Linked DNA regions of Homo sapiens. The protein of the gene in region 1 purifies or fractionates together with the protein of each later gene. This does not show direct contact. Each region holds a gene or a part of one and is shown on either strand. Other genes may lie near its edges. The genes, in order: SLC35A2 and PRSS2.

The links.
Region 2: the proteins of SLC35A2 (region 1) and PRSS2 purify together in Homo sapiens (affinity purification with mass spectrometry; 2 studies listed by BioGRID and IntAct, with this or other methods). This does not show direct contact.

What each region holds. Positions count from the first base shown.
Region 1 is NC_000023.11:48,909,602-48,913,512, reverse strand, and holds the start of SLC35A2 (UDP-galactose translocator), read left to right. Parts: upstream 1-1,866; 5' UTR 1,867-1,876; coding exon 1,877-1,967; coding exon of another isoform or gene 1,968-2,006; intron 2,007-3,195; coding exon of another isoform or gene 3,196-3,279; intron 3,280-3,516; coding exon 3,517-3,699; intron 3,700-3,911. UniProt on the Homo sapiens protein: Transports uridine diphosphate galactose (UDP-galactose) from the cytosol into the Golgi apparatus, functioning as an antiporter that exchanges UDP-galactose for UMP.
Region 2 is NC_000007.14:142,768,815-142,772,725, forward strand, and holds the start of PRSS2 (trypsin-2 isoform 2 preproprotein), read left to right. Parts: upstream 1-2,155; 5' UTR 2,156-2,168; coding exon 2,169-2,208; intron 2,209-3,234; coding exon 3,235-3,394; intron 3,395-3,747; coding exon of another isoform or gene 3,748-3,789; intron 3,790-3,911. UniProt on the Homo sapiens protein: In the ileum, may be involved in defensin processing, including DEFA5.

The DNA.
Region 1 (3,911 bases):
TGGTGAGAAGAACCTTACTTCCATAATTTGGGAAGGAATGGAAGATGGACACCACCGGACACCACCAGACACTAGGATGGGATGGATGGTTTTTTGGGGGATGGGCTAGGGGAAATAAGGCTTGCTGTTTGTTCTCCTGGGGCGCTCCCTCCAACTTTTGCAGATTCTTGCAACCTCCTCCTGAGCCGGGATTGTCCAATTACTAAAATGTAAATAATCACGTATTGTGGGGAGGGGAGTTCCAAGTGTGCCCTCCTCTCTTCTCCTGCCTGGATTATTTAAAAAGCCATGTGTGGAAACCCACTATTTAATAAAAGTAATAGAATCAGAAGCGGCTGGCCATTTGTAGGTGTGAGGCTTTTATGGAGCATCTACTGTGCACTGAGACAGACTGTCCCTCTGCTTTGTCCTCAGGAAGCCACAGTCTTATGTTGCCATCCTAAAGAGCTTTAAGGATTCTTGAAGCTGCACCACACACACACAAAAAAATCTTGATTCCCCTGCCCCTGATCTTATGCAGTGCCCAGTATGTGCAGAAGGGTTCTCTGTTGGAGATACTGTGCATATTGAAGGTGTTTAGGGCACATCCCCAATCAAGATGGCTATCTCAGAAGCAGAAAAACTACCTTCCCTGGCACCCCAGGGGAATGAAGAAGCCCTTTCCCCTGTTGCAGAAGAAAAGCCCTGTCAGGGTACTGGCCAGGGCGGGGCTGGGGTTGGGCGCTGACTGGAATCTGTCCAGGGTGTAGTCACCTGTTTTGCTCTTTATCTTTAGCCTCTTCCCCCATCTTTACCCTTACATACCCATCCCTCTAATTTCTCCTTCAACACTTGACTTACCTGGCCTACCCTATTCCATGTTGGTTTCACTTGTTCCGACCTGAGTTGTTCCCTCTCTTGCCCTGCTTATTTGTCTCGGTTCAGTATAAACTCCGCCTTCCGGGTTCCAGCGGTTCTCCTGCCTCAGCCTCCAGAGTAGCTGGGTACAGGTGCATACCACTAAGCCCGGGTAATTTTTTTTTTTTATTTGAGACGGGGTTTTGTCGTTTTGCCCAGGCTGGAACTCCTGAGCTCAGGTGATCGCCCGGCTCAGCCTCCCAAAGTGCTGGGATTACAGGCGTGAGCCACCGCCTCTGGCCCGGACTCTTGCCCTGCTTCCAAATGCTAGCTAACCTGTGAGCCTTTCGCCTGTCCCCTTTGCCATCCTCAGTGGTGACTCACTTGTCTTCCCTTATGTGCGTCAACTTTCCTTTGCATTTTCACTTGTTTATCCTCACCTGCTCTGCTTTTATCTGCTAGCTTAACATTCCTGACTCGCACCTGATGCCAGTACGCCCTCACCCCGACCCCGCCAGGTCAAAGTTTCTTCGTCCCCAGATTCCCGTGTGCTCTCCAGGGGGCGAGGCCTCTCTGGAAGACGGGAAAGCGGAATTTCAGTCCAACCATGAAGCACCTGGTAGTTTCTGATACGGAAAGGGCGGCGCCTTATGGAGAAGCTGCCAATAAAGAGCCGAGATGAAAGGGGTGGCTGAACCAATGAGTCTAGGAGACAAGATCGGGGGATGATCTGGAAAGCGCGATCAGTGAAGCGGACGAACGGCAGGATAAGGCGGGTCTAGTGACAGGAATGGGCCGATGAAGCTCTGTAGGGATGGTGGGTAGGCCGATCGGGCCGTGTCCCCGGCCTCCCGATCCGACGGAATTTGGAAATCCCGGGGCTATTCATACATTGAGCTTTTAGGAGCGGAGGAGAAAAGCCACCACCCTGACGATCCCGGCTCTCGCTCCACCTTCACTCAGGTGGCCCGGCAGCGGAAGTGACGAACGCGGAAGTGGTTTTTCTGTTGCCGAGGGGACGGGCCGGGCAGATGCCAACATGGCAGCGGTTGGGGCTGGTGGTTCCACCGCGGCGCCCGGGCCAGGGGCGGTTTCCGCGGGTGCATTGGAGCCGGGGACCGCCAGTGCGGGTGAGACAGTCTGCCCGAGCAGTCGCATGGGAGGCGGAGGTCGGGATCGCTGGGAGTCGGGAATGTTCCTCACTAAAGTGAGAGGGAGCATCCCGTGTGGACCGACGTGTGTGTGTGTGTGTGTGTGCACATTGTCAGTGTGTTGGGGGCGGGGAAGAGAACATTCTGAGAGTGATTGTGGGATCCTTCCGCATATGGAGAGTAGAGACCATTGTGAGTGTGGTGGGTAATTCTTTTTGGGAAGGCTAAGGCCACCGAAACCATTCTGAATATGTGGAGTCCTTCCGTGTGGAAGAGACCATTCTGCGGGTGTGGGAGTTCCTCACTGAAGAAGGGGGAGACTATTCTGAGGGTGGTGGTTCCTTCCTTATAAAGGGACAGAGACTATTGTGAGTTAGGGTGGGGCGAGTCCTTCTTTATGTGACTAGAGAGGGTCCATTTTGAGGATGGGGGTGTCTTTCATTATGTGCGGAGGAGACCGTTCTGGGGGCTCCCTCCTAATGGAGGTAGAGTTCATTGTACATTCGGGTGGGAGGGCTCATCGTTATATGGTGGAGAAAGAACGTTCTGAGAGTGCCGGGTCCTTCCTTATAGCAGAGAGAGCTCATTGTGAGTGTGGGTAGAGCAAGGAAAAATTCATTAGCTAGAGGGTCCGTGTGCGGTGGTGGGAGGGCAGACCATGTGGAGTGCAGGGAAGTATTTCCTCATCTGGTTGAGGGAGCCAGACCTTTCTTGGTGGGATAACCATTCCTGATACAGGATTCAGTCCCTGGGAGCATGTGGGAATCATTTCTTGTATTTAGTAGACTATTCTGGTTCGAGAGGAACCAGTTGTCACAGGAGTGAGGGGTTGGAGAGACCATTCTGGGTATGAGGAGGATCATTCCATATGGGATGTAGGCCATTCTCAGTGTGAGGGAATCGAATCATTTCTTAGATAGGAGAAAGACCGTTCTTAGGGGGTGAACATACCTCATACAGTGGCCTCATTCCCTGCATTGATGTGTTATTCTTTACATGAGACAGTCCCTCATTAAACAGGAGCATCATTTCATATAAATTCTCAGTTTGCTAATCCATAAATGGGAATCCTCGCAGTTCTTTTGGAGATGACAGTGATATGAGTCTATTGAGGTAATCCATAGAAATCCCTTAACCCAGTGATAGGCATACAGTAAACACTCAATAAACGTGGAGAATGTAGTTGTCGGTATTCTTTCTGGGGAAGAGTTGCTTCTCACTTGGGAGGAAGCCGAGGCGCGTGGCCAGGGTTTGCCTCAGCCATTACCTGACACCTCAGTAAGGATTCCAGGTATGGACTGGGACAGGGTGGGGCCCATTTCTCCCTTCTGGCTCTTCCTGCTCATGGCTGAGGCAGTAAGCCGGTAGGAGTCAGACCCTTATTGGGTGAGGGCAGGCAGGCTGAGGGAGCAAGTAGCCATGGCTAGGAGGGTCCTGGGTGAGAAAGAAAGGGGGTGGGTGGTGGTGTGGCTATGCCCCAGCGGCTTCTGACCCCGTCCTTCCCCCTTGCCCCTTCCGTTCCCCACAGCTCACAGGCGCCTGAAGTACATATCCCTAGCTGTGCTGGTGGTCCAGAATGCCTCCCTCATCCTCAGCATCCGCTACGCCCGCACGTTGCCAGGGGACCGCTTCTTTGCCACCACTGCTGTGGTCATGGCGGAAGTGCTCAAAGGTCTCACCTGCCTGCTGCTGCTCTTCGCACAGAAGAGGGGTACGAACCAGGGATGGGGCTGCACTGGGGTCGGTGGGTGAGACTCCACATGTATGTGTGTGTGTTCACACAGATGGTTTGCTTCAGGAGTGTCTCCAAATCTCAACCTGCCTGGAGCGCCACTCCAGCTATGCGTAGCGGCATCTTACACTTTTCTAGCCCTAACAGCCGGGTAGCCGGCCTGTGTGGGCTGTAGGAGTGAGATTGCCAAT
Region 2 (3,911 bases), on another chromosome or scaffold:
CAACACAGCAAAACCCCATATTATCAATGCTCTAAAACCTAGCTACCTCAGGCTTGGCCAGTTATTCATGAGCAGAGAGGTGTGTCATCTACATGGCAGTCATGGCCTGGATGGGTCTGGAACTGTGGCAAGGTAAGGCTCTGAGAAAAGGTGCCAGGAGAAAGATGAATTCAATCATCTATTTCTGCCAGGAAGAAAAGCACCAGGAAGGAATCAGATGTACAGTTTGTCCTCTGGGGACCTCTGCCTTGATCCTCAATAAATCTCCTTTTAGATGCCACGTGCAGCAATTCCCACACTTCACAATGCTCTCCATGGCTTCTGTTGGCCTTATGGTCAGCTCTGCCAAGATCTGTATTCTTGGGCAAGACAGAATCCTTCTGAATCTCAGTCTCTTCCTCTATAAATGGAAATAATTTTGCTCCACACAAGTCACCATTAGCACGTTGGTGGGAAGTTAAACTGCGAAACTCAGCATAAACAAAGAGCAATGTACCACTGTTGCTTACGTGAAAACTCCCGTGAAGCAGTCAGGCACCATGCACCATCTAAGCATAGCAGCGTTAGGTATCAGCCTATTAGTGATTAGAGAGGGTACCGGGGAGAGAGGGGGCCTCAGAGCAGTGGGTCTCCTGGCTGTGGGGAAGCTGCCTCAGTGGCCATGCCAGGAGCTGAACCTGAAGGTACTCTGTGTGTCCTCTCAACACCATGGACCCTATTTTGGTATTTTTTTCCAGTTACCTCTGGTTTCCATTTGCTTCCTCCCTCTAGCCCCCTGGCCATGTCCGATTTCTCCAGCAAGTTTCTGAGCTTTTCTCATTTTGCTCACTGTCTCCAGAACATCCCTGCTTCTTTTACCTTTCAAAGAATTCAAACTTGAACTCTGCTCACTCCTGCCCATCACCAACATTAGCTCAGAGTTGATGAGAAGGGAAAGCACCCTCATAAGGAAGCCCCTCCTTTCCTTACATTATTAGACCTGAGCGCAGACAGCATCTCCATCTCCACACTGCTCTGGCCAGGTTATGCCTCAGTCAATTACACGACTGTATCTTAGTACCCTTGGTAGGGCTCAAATCAGGATATTCTCTAGAAAGATTCACTTAGTACTGAGCCAAGTATAATCTCACTACATCTAAAATAGAAAATTCTAGACCCACCCCTCCACATCTTTGTTATTGAACCCAATATGTCACCCATTTACCATGTGCTCAAATCCCTACCTACTGCTGATTCTCAGATCAAATCATAACCCAGATTTACCATGGTCCAAACTCTGACATGTGATCAGGGGCATGTCATTCTGGTTCAGGCTGTCAGCCCCAAGCAGGTGGGTCAGTTTCAATCACCCTGAGTGCAGGTTGCAAGGGCAACCATGAGGCTGCATAAAAAGAACCTATGACAGGATGCACATGAGAGACAAATGTCTTCACATTGAAGAAGGGGAGGAGTGCGCCATTGGTTTTCCATCCTCCAGATGCACTGAGTAAGCTCCTACCTAACCTGTGCCCCCTCCTTCTTCTCATCCCTATGCCGTGGTAGGAGGGAGAGCCATCTTCAAGCCCAGCATCCTATGGAATGCTGAGTCTCTCTTCTCCTTACCCCTTAATGTTGGAATTCTCATTCCCCAAAGCCTTGGATTTGACTTTCCCACTGAGTGACTGGAGAGAAGCATCTTCATATTCACAGGAACAAGCCTTAGTTAGATAAGACTTTGCCCCTCTCCTGGGAGCTCCAGGACACTAAAAAGCCAAGCTTGCTACCAACACTTGCCCTTCCTTAAGTACATTAAATATAACCCCAATAGTAAAATATATTCCTAAACAGCCAGGCCATTCTCCCTCCTTCTAACCCTCATCTCCTCGGCCTAAGAAAGCCCAGCTGTGTGATCTGGGGCTTGGCTTCCCCTGTCTTTCCCATATCAGCATCCTTCCAGGAAACAGCCGGTCTCCCTCTCTGCTCTCAGAAGGCAAGTTTCCTTATCACCTGTGAATCACAAACCCACAGAGTGGCCAAACATACTGATGCAAGACCATAGGAAGGGGAAAGCTGCAGGTGTGTTTGTGCTGGGAGGAGCAGTGACCCTCACCTCACAGACACCTCCTCTCCCCATCCTCGGGAGGTATAAAGACGGGTTCTCCACCAGCAATCAGGCACACTCTACCACCATGAATCTACTTCTGATCCTTACCTTTGTTGCAGCTGCTGGTGAGTTTCACGCCCTGCCTCAGGCCTCAACCAACCCTTCCCTGGCAGACACATGCCCTGCCATTCTTGCCACCTCTCCTCTTTTGACTGTGCTGTGATATTCTATTTCCTCCATCTGGCATTTCTTCTTCCCATCCTCCTTGGGCTCTTTTTAAGCCTCACTTGTTCCACCTTCTCCTTGATTTCACTCCCACCGCTGTTATTCATCCATATCCGAGCTGTGGTTGGAGAAGCTGGGAAGGGAGACCAGGTGGGGCTGGCCCATGAAATGAAGCAGTAGGCTTCAGGCTTGGCTCTGACAGCACCACAATAGCACCACTATAGCTGCTCTTAACCTCGAATGCACCTGGGGAGGTTGAAATTACTCATGCAAGACACTCAACTCTAGAAATTCTCACTTCAATTGTCTGGTGTGCAGCCTGTGTTCTGGGCTTTTAAGCTTCCCAGGTGATTTTTAACATTTCTAGGCATGCAGCCAAGGTTAAGAATTGCTGTTGTTTTGACCAATAATAACGTATACCTTTGTTCTGCAAAAGTGAGCCTGGGGCTTCCCTCAACTCTGCCCTCACTGGGCAGATTTGAGCTGAGGGGGAAACTGGTCATGGCCAAGTCGATGTCGCCAGGGGGTTTTCCTAGCTTGGCCAAAGTAGCCAGACAATCCGGGGCTTAAATAACCAGGTGGAGTACACAGGTGGTGAATAAAAGAGAGAAGACTTCAGTGCTTGAGACAGCCACATCCCAAATCCTATCCCACTGGAAGTATTGTGAGGATATTCCTTGCGTCCTCAGCCTGGTGACCCCAGGAGAGATCTGAACCCCCACAGGGTACCTAGCTACGTGCCCTGCAGACACAGAGACTTGGGAGCCACATCCAGTGATGATCACCAGGGCTGGCAGCGCTCCCCCCCTTGCCTAGCCTCACTGAGCTTGTTAAGGTTTTCTAATTAGCAGGAAGCAGCCACAGGCTGGGAGCGCCACCCCTAACATGCTACTGACTTGCCTTCTCCCTTCCCATCTCCACTCCAGTTGCTGCCCCCTTTGATGATGATGACAAGATCGTTGGGGGCTACATCTGTGAGGAGAATTCTGTCCCCTACCAGGTGTCCTTGAATTCTGGCTACCACTTCTGCGGTGGCTCCCTCATCAGCGAACAGTGGGTGGTGTCAGCAGGTCACTGCTACAAGTCGTAAGTGTGGGGCCCCTGACTGCAAAACTCCCAGCCAGGCTGCCTGGGAGAGCTTGGATTCAGCCCAGGGAAGTACTGAGGTTGGGTAGGACGGACGAGAGAGATGGTGGAAAAGAAAACTTGTTGGCAGCAGCTGACTCTCCAGAGCAGAGAGTGAACACAAGACAGGAAGCCCTCACACCCAGGCAAATCCATGAAACAGCAAGGGTTGTGGTCATAAAAGCAGGCAGGGATGATCTTGGGGTGGTGAGAGCTAGTGAGAAGAGCAGGCTAGTACTTTTGCTGGTTAGCTACACATTAAAGCCACCTAAGAATGAGTACTTAAAAATACTGATCCCTGTGTTCTATCCCAGGGCAATTAACTCAAAATTATCAGGAAGAGGGTGTGAATATCAGTGAGTATTTCACACTCTACCTCTGGTAACTGTAGAGTGTATAGACAGAGCTGAGAACTGCTGCCTACACCAAGAACTCTTAAACCTGAGTATGCATCAGAACTCCCTGCAGGCTTGTTAAG